Regions from separate parts of the Homo sapiens genome. Here region 2 is linked to region 1. The links come from fine-mapping of genetic effects on gene expression. Tissue or cell type: tibial artery. Region 1 holds a variant in brackets; the other region holds the start of a gene. All regions are shown on one strand. Distances are between the middles of the regions.

Region 1 (4,159 bases):
CGCCCAGTTGGCACTCAATAAAGATGTGCTGGCCCGGCGCGGTGGCTCACGCCTGTAATCCCAGCACTCTGGGAGGCCGAGGCGGGTGAAACACGAGGCCAGCAGTTCGAGAACAGCCTGGCCAACATGGTGAAACCCTGTCTCTACTAAAAAATACAAAAATTAGCCGGGCGCGGTGGCGGGAGCCTGTAATCCCACTATTCGGGAGGCTGAGGCAGGAGAATTGCTTGAACCCGGGAGGCGGAGGTTGCAGTGAGCCGAGATTGTACCACTGCACTCTAGCCTGGGCGACAGAGCAAGACTCCGTCTCAGAAAAATAAAAATAAAATAAAGATGTGTTTGCTGGACTCCTGGAAGGAAGCAGGCGTGCTCATCCTAGGCCCAAGAAATGACAGGGACAGCCCTGATCCAGTCCACGGTATTATCTAAATCTCACAGGAAGCTTAGGAGGGCAGCCACGAGGTTATCCCATTTTACTGACAAACTGAAGACACAAGGTCAGGAAGTGGCAGTCTCAAAGGCCTGTCCTGTTTGAGTCCTGGGTCCTAAGGGCTGTCCTCTGGGGTGGCAGAGACCCCAGATTGGAGGAGTCCACGAAGCAGTCATTTGGCCAGAAGCTGTCTGTGTGTAGGATGGGGAGTAGCAGGCGGCATTCATCTCTCCAACCTCTACACTGTGCTTTTCATTTCTGGGTGTACCATGCTCCTCCCTGGCCCTGCAGCCCCTCACTCCTCAGCATTTTCCTCTATTACAAGACATTCTCTGTGAGCCTCTTCATAACAGCTGGGTTAGACCTTAGTTATAATGCGATTGTAAAACGCGTTCTGATTTTAGCAGTATTAAATGCAGTGAGATTAAAAGAACCATTTCCAAACATGCCCTTAAGTGGGAGGTCCCTTTGCGCGCAGTCTTTCTCCTTTGATAGCCCTCATCACTTTTTCCACCTGCAAGGCTCCAGTTCATCCATCATCTCCCAGCTCCACGGGTTCCTCCTTGGCAAACCGAGTGTGGCCTGGTAGTTAGAAGCCCATTCCTAGGTTCAAACCCCAATTCCCCCACTTGCTACTTGGCACTTTGGGCAAGAGAATGTACCTCTCTGAGCCTCCATTTCCTCACCTATAAGAGACCTATAATCACGTCTGCTCCCCAGCATTCTTGGTGGAAAAGAACCTTGTATGTGAAGTGCCACACTCAGGGCCTGCTGTCATAAGCGCTTGATGAACGGAAGTGGTTTCAGCTGATGCCATGATGGTGGCGGTCACTGAGCATGCTGTGTGCCAGAGAACACCTCAGATGCACCTCCTCACACTGTGAGGTATCTGAGCGCTTGCCCTGGCATGTGGAGTAGTTGAGTGTGAACTCCCAGAACTTTGCCCAGAGCAAGGGAAAGGGCAAGGGCTGGAGCTCTTCCTCTGCTGGGGACTCTGGGTGGGGTTTTGGGATGGGATCCAGGGTCCTTGTAGGGACTCAGTTCCAGCCTCTTTTCCCTCTCCTCTCCCTCTCCAGACTGTGGTACAGACCTCCATGAGCCGGTCCCAGGTAGCCCTGCTGGGCCTGAGTCTGCTGCTCATGCTCCTACTGTATGTGGGGCTGCCAGGCCCCCCTGAGCAGACTTCCTGCCTCTGGGGAGACCCCAATGTCACAGTCCTGGCTGGTCTCACCCCTGGCAACTCGCCCATCTTTTACCGCGAGGTGCTCCCACTCAACCAGGCACACAGGTAGGTGCTGCTCCAAGGGTCTAGTGGAGGGACTAGGCTCAAGGGGAGTCCCTGTGTGGGACCCCCATTATACTCAGGGTGCTCAGGTCCTGGGAGGGCAATGGGAGAAGCCTAGGAATAAAGAAAGGTGGGCTACACCAGGTTCCCAGCAAACACATTCCCCTGTGTGCCTGCAGGGTGGAGGTGGTGCTGCTTCATGGAAAGGCCTTTAACTCTCACACGTGGGAGCAGCTGGGCACACTGCAGCTACTGTCACAGAGGGGCTACCGGGCCGTGGCCCTTGACCTTCCAGGTGAGCACCCCCACCCCTTTGTCTAGGGAAGCCTTAAGTGTGGCTGGGAGGCAACTGGACCCTAG[G/T]GTCTGGACAGGCCGTGGCAGGTCACAACATAAGGTGGCACCATGAAAAAGTCTGTGTTTTCATTTTCTACTATGAAAACTACAGTGTGAATTCTAGGTCATGGAGCAAATAAAAACTCTTCACAAGCAGTATACTTTCTTTTTTTTTATTTTATTTATATATATTTTTTGAAACAGAGTCTCGCTCTGTCACCCAGGCTAGAGTACAATGGCACAATCTCGGCTCACTGCAACCTCCGCCTCCCGGGTTCAAGCAATTCTCCTGCCTCCGCTTCCCCAGTAGCTGAGATTACAGGTGACTGCCACCACGCCTGGCTAATTTTTGTATTTTTAGTGGAGATAGGGTTTCACCATGCTGGCCAGGCTGGTCCTGAACTCCCGACCTCAGGTGATTCGCCTGCCTCGGCCTCCCCAAGTGCTGGGATTACAGGTGTGAGCCACTGCGCCCGGCCAAGCAGTGTACTTTCTATGGCAAACCATATAGGTTTTGTGTTTTTAAGTACACAAATGATTTATGCTATCATTCTTGTCATTAAAAAAATGAAAAAATGTCGAGTCATAGAGGATTAAAAAATACTAAAAAATAGCAAAGCTCTGAGAGACTGGTGCCGCATTTCTCTCCCTCTCTAAGAAGTTTAGGGGATGCCACACGCTGTTCTGGGTATTCCCACATGTAAAGATGCAGACGATGTAGAGGATTGTCTAGTGGGGGCTGTAAACATGATTGGTATCCTGTCTGCTTAGCACATCCATCTGTAGCTTGGTTTTCTCCCCCTACATCATGTCTCAAGGATCATGCCGGTCCCTACAAACCTCCCTCTTTGTTGTCAACCCTGCAGTGTGTCCCATAGGAGGGATGGACAGGCTTTATTCAGCCATTCCTCTACTGGCGGAGTGCTCAAGCAATATAGTAGCTAAAGCATCCTTGGGCATGCTTCTTTGAGCATGTGAGCAATAATTTCTCTAGGGTAGCTACTGAGGACAATTGATGGGCCAAAGGATGTGTTGTGTTTTGTTTTTTTTTTGTTTGTTTCTTTTTTTGTTTTTTGTTTTTTTTTTTTTTGAGACAGAGCCTCGCTCTGTCACCCTGGCTGGAGTGCAGTGGCTCGTACTCGGCTCACTGCAACCTCCGCCTTCTGGGTTCAAGCGATTCTCCTGCCTCAGTCTCCTGAGTAGCTGGGATTACAGGTGCGCCCCACCATGCCTGGCTAATTTTTGTATTTTTAGTAGAGACAGGGTTTCACCATGTTGGTCAGGCTGGTCTCAAACTCCTGACCTCATGATCCGCCACCTCGGCCTCCCAAAGTGCTGGGATTACAGGCATGAGCCACCGCGCCCAGCTGCCAGGACATGCATTTTTAAATTTAGATAACTACTATCTCACCCTCCAAAAACACTATATGGATTTATCTTCCCATCTGTCATGTATGAAAGTGCCCATTTCCCCATGTCTCCCCCAACACTGGGTATTATTTATTTTTTATTTTATTTTATTTTTTTTTTAGACAGAGTCTCGCAGTCGCCCAGGCTAGAGTGCAGTGGCATGATCTCGGCTCACTGCAGGCTCCGCCCCCCGGGGTTCATGCCATTCTCCTGCCTCAGCCTCCTGCGTAGCTGGGACTACAGGTGCCCGCCACCTCGCCTGGCTAATTTTTTGTATTTTTAGTAGAGACGGAGTTTCACCGTGTTAGCCAGGATGGTCTCGATCTCCTAACCTCGTGATCTGCCCGCCTCGGCCTCCCAAAGTGCTGGGATTACAGGCGTGAGCCACCACTCTCGGCCAAGATATGCTTTTCTAACAGGCATATTACATTACCAGAAAATAGCTTCTGGGCAGTTTTAGGTAGTGTGTGCCAGTGCCAGTGGTCCCCAACTTTTTCCCCCACTGTGGTGGGCAGGAAGTCCTGTGCCCCTTCCCAGTGCCCCTCAGCTGGTACCTGCTGCTGTTCCTAGGTTTTGGGAACTCGGCACCTTCAAAGGAGGCAAGCACAGAGGCAGGGCGGGCAGCGCTGCTGGAGCGGGCGCTGCGGGACCTGGAGGTACAGAATGCCGTGTTGGTGAGCCCCTCGCTGAGTGGCCACTAT
Region 2 (4,159 bases), 37 kb before region 1:
CTAAGTGGTAAGTAAGTGTACAGAGGTTTACCATTTTACCATTACTCTCTGTAGTGCAAATATATCTCATTCACTTTTCTGTATCTAACACACTTCACAACACAACATTCTAAAAATATTTAAAAGCACTTAGCCCACACTAGCCTGGCACACACTCACCCACAATAACCTTCGGATTAAGAAAAGTACATTAATGGCTGGGTGTGGTGGCTCACGCCTATAATCCCAGCACTCTGGGAGGCTAAGATGGGCGGATCACTTGAGGTCAGGAGTTCGAGACCAGCCTGGCCAACATGGTGAAACTCCATCTCTACTAAACATACATAATTAGCCAGGCATGGTGGTGCAGGCCTATAATCCCAGCTACTCAGGTGGCTGAGGCAGGAGAATCACTTGAACCTGGGAAGCAGAGGTTGCAGTGAGCCGAGATCGCACCACTGCACTCCAGCCTGGGCAACAGAGTGAGACTCTGTCTCAAAAACAAAAAAAAAAAGTACATTCTTTCCATGAGCAAATTAAGGCAACACATACTCAATTTTAGAAGCGAGTTCTAAAGTCAACTCATAGGGAAGGCACTAGGATTCTCTGGTCCAAGAGCCTCCAACCCACAGGGTCAGGCCTGACACCATGCCTGACCCTTTGAAAACCTGCAAGCAACCACACCCATCACCTGCAGAAATGAGGGAGGCATCCAAAGCCCTCTACAATCTACATGCACTTATGACCAGTCCTCCTGTTTTTGTGTGTGGTTTTTTTTTAGAGACAGGATCTTGCTGTCACCCAGACTGGAGAGCAGTGCATGATCATAGTTCACTGCAGCTTCAACTCCCTGGGAAGGGATCCCCAAACCTTAGCCTCCTGAGTAGTTGGGACTACAGGTGCACACCACCATACCCAGCTAACTTTTTTTTTTTGTACAGACAAGATCTCGCTATGTTGCCCAGGCTGGTCTCAAACTCCTGACATCAAGCAATCCTCCCGCCTTGGCCTCCCAAAGTGCTGGGATTAGAGGCATGAGTTACCAGGCCCAGCCCCCTTTCATCTTTTCTACTGCCCATTCTGGCACACTTACACCTCAGACTTTCCTCTGATCACTGAATGCCTTCCCTACCTCTCCGTGAGAGACTCCTCTTCATCTCTCAAGACCCTATTTAAATGTCCCTCCTCTGTTCCCAGAACACACAACTATAAAATACACACCTCACTACAACACACTCTCTTCACCCGCCTGCCTATCTCTGCACTTCCAACAGCAAAGGCAGTGCCTGGCATGTTAAGAGACGGGGAGCCCAGTAATTGTGAAATTGCAGGAAAACTGGCAAGGGAAGAAGGATGCAAGAAATACTTGACAGCTTTGTTCTGTTTTCCTGCAATTTCTCAATCAGTCCAGTCCCTGCCAAAACCTAAGGAGGTCTCAATGGCCTCGGATTGGGGCCCAGGGTCCTTCCCACCCAGAGACCTCGCAGAAACAAGACTTTGCAGGACCAGAAACTAAAGGAAACAGCCACGATCTCAGAGCCAAGGGACAGAGTCTTGGATTCTAGGCTCAGTTCTGTTCGGACTCACTCAGTCTTCCGTGCACCATGGGACTCAGTTTTCCCTCCCACTATGTGGAAAAGAATAGCTCACCTCTCGCTCTCAGAGTCGCTGGAGATCTCCTCATTCATCTTGCCGCCACCCTTGGATTTGCCCCTGTCCCCCGCAGAGTCGGCCTGGGAATTATACGGTCTTTTCTTTGGTCAGGGGTCCAGACCACCCTGGCATTGACCAAGGGCCCCCCCCCCTCGGTTCCCTCAGAACCCCAGGAATGGGGAAGGCGGTGGTTCCCGGGTTAAGCGAACGGCTTTCTAGGATTTGGCCCGCGGAGAGAGGGACGAAGCTGACTCCAGCAGGGGTCCAGGGCGAAGGGCTGGGGAAGGGCCGGGACCCAGGTCCCCTGGATGGGATGACGGTTGTCCCAGTAGCAGGGCTGACCGCGGCCCTCAGAAGCGCCATGCTCACCTTTCGCCGCCGCTTGCCGGCCCCCGCGCCAGCCCCGGCCCCAGAGGCCGGCTTTCCCCGCTTACGAGCAGCCGCTGTTGCCGACATGCTGCCCACCAGGCGTGTAGCAGCGGCCGCAGAACTCACGTGGCAGCTGAACCCTCCCAGCTCCCCAGCCGCCTGGCAAGACCCCGCGTATTGATAGGCTTCCACCGCCCGCCGGGCCCCGCCTCCTACTGCTCCATTGGGTCCTTCTGCAGGCTCTGCCACGCCCCCAGGCACCCATAGGATGCACGCTTGTAGCCCCGCCTCCTGAAGTTCCTAGGCTCCCGCACCAGGCTCGAGTAGGAAGCCCGCATCTCCACGGCGCTTCCGGCCTGATGCTGTGGCGCTTGCGCTCTGCTGCTGGCCCACTTCGAAGTCGGAGCAAGAGCCTTCTCTGTGTTTGCGCCCCTTGGCCGCTGGGGGGCGCCAGAGACGCGGCGCCCTTTCGCGTTCTGGAACGTGACTCCTCCCCTCCATGGGCAGCCCGGCGCTAGACCCAACGGGGATCCAAGCAGCCCCGGGGAGAGGGAGGCTGCGTCTGTATCCGGGCCCAAGGTCACCGCGCGACCGGCAGATGCGTGCTGCAGGCCCCGGCCACATGAGCAGCGCTACGGACGCGACTGCCCCGGCCTTGGATATGCCAGATCGAGTGTCCACCCGTCCGTGGGACTGGTCGCCTGACTCGGCCTGCCCCAGCCTCTGCTTCACCCCACTGGTGGCCAAATAGCCGATGTCTAATCCCCCACACAAGCTCATCCCCGGCCTCTGGCGATTGTTGGGAATTCTCTCCCTAATTCACGCCTGAGGCTCATGGAGAGTTGCTAGACCTGGGACTGCCCTGGGAGGCGCACACAACCAGGCCGGGTGGCAGCCAGGACCTCTCCCATGTCCCTGCTTTTCTTGGGTGAGTGTCCTATGGTCCTGCCCACGGCAGGGCAGGGCAAGGCCTGGTGGGACTGGCCTTTGCCCTCTATCAGTTCAAGGCCACTGATCCGGAGTTCTGGCTCCTCAGAACTCTTGAGTCCATTGGGAAGGGCTTCTACAGCTCTGGGTTCTAAGCTCCGGGAGGATAATCTGGCCCCAAGAATCCTGCCCCCAGGATCCTCTGCCCACCCTCCCCCATAGCTCGGTGACTCGGCCCGGCAACCATGCCAGGGCTGAACTAGCTGACACAGGGGGAGGAGCCCCGAAGTGGAAGAGAGAGAGCCTCCTTTCACTTTCCCTACCCCTCAGGACACACAGGTGAGCTGCAGAGGGTAGGGAGCCAGGCAGACCCTGTTGACCAGAGTGGGCAGACTGGACAGAGTCCTAACCTTGCACTTGGGACTGGGGAAAGGGGTGTTTCTGAGTGACAAAGAGCTGGGTGTGGTCTGGGGCTGGGAATGCCGTCAGAGTGGACACAGGATGCAGTGGGAGGCCACCGAAGGGCCAACCCGGGGTGGGGCAAGTTGGTGCTGTGCTGGCCCAGGGCAGGGGTGGGGACTGAGAGTGGGTCGTTGGGGATGAGGAGACCATGGAGGCCTAAGGGCCTCTCTGTGCCCCAGGACAGCCATGGCTCCAAAGCCGAAGCCCTGGGTACAGACTGAGGGCCCTGAGAAGAAGAAGGGCCGGCAGGCAGGAAGGGAGGAGGACCCCTTCCGCTCCACCGCTGAGGCCCTCAAGGCCATACCCGCAGAGAAGCGCATAATCCGCGTGGATCCAACATGTCCACTCAGCAGCAACCCCGGGACCCAGGTGAGCTGCAGTCCCCAGTCAGGCCCAGAGCCTGCCCACTGATAAGCACAAACACACCCAGGCCACCCCCTTAGGACTCTGTTCTGGTTTTGGAGCCCAAGGCCCCCAGGTAAGCGCCAGAGCAAGGCCATGTTCTCCTGACCCCAGACATCAGGGCTGTGTCCCGTCAGGTCCAGGCGGGTCACATCTGCCCTTCAGACCCCATGCAGGCCTCCTCCCACCGCACTTAGGGAAAGGCTGTGACTACATCAGTCTCCTGGGCGCTTGCCCATGTCCCCTCAGGGCAGAGCCATGTCCCTCTCAGATTCCCCCATCCAGGGCCCAGCTGTGTCCCCCCCAGCACCCCCCATACCTCCATGTCAGGGTTTAGCCATGTCCTCTCACACCGCATCCCCTAGGG

Evidence for each region. PIP is the estimated chance that this variant, and not a neighbour inherited with it, causes the effect. A credible set is the group of variants that fine-mapping cannot tell apart.
Region 2: it holds the start of PARP3, and the variant in region 1 is the best candidate, but not a certain one, in a credible set for the expression of PARP3 in tibial artery (GTEx, PIP 0.52).

Annotation. Positions count from the first base shown.
Region 1 is chr3:51,976,365-51,980,523 of GRCh38, forward strand. It overlaps ABHD14A-ACY1 (ABHD14A-ACY1 readthrough), which reads left to right. Exons shown (of 17, transcript NM_001316331.2): 2 at 1,507-1,718; 3 at 1,895-2,010. The coding sequence starts at 1,583. It overlaps ABHD14A (abhydrolase domain containing 14A), which reads left to right. Exons shown (of 5, transcript NM_015407.5): 2 at 1,507-1,718; 3 at 1,895-2,010; 4 at 4,029-4,159. Among named protein-coding and RNA genes, the nearest start is that of ABHD14A-ACY1, 3.4 kb to the left of the region's middle. The variant G/T (reference allele first, on the strand shown) is at 2,076.
Region 2 is chr3:51,939,780-51,943,938 of GRCh38, forward strand. It overlaps PARP3 (poly(ADP-ribose) polymerase family member 3), which reads left to right and starts at 2,584. Exons shown (of 11, transcript NM_001003931.4): 1 at 2,584-2,929; 2 at 3,575-3,759. The coding sequence starts at 3,577. It overlaps RRP9 (ribosomal RNA processing 9, U3 small nucleolar RNA binding protein), which reads right to left and starts at 2,125. Exons shown (of 15, transcript NM_004704.5): 1 at 2,002-2,125; 2 at 1,630-1,712. The coding sequence starts at 2,088. RefSeq lists enhancers at 1,487-2,135, 2,260-2,589.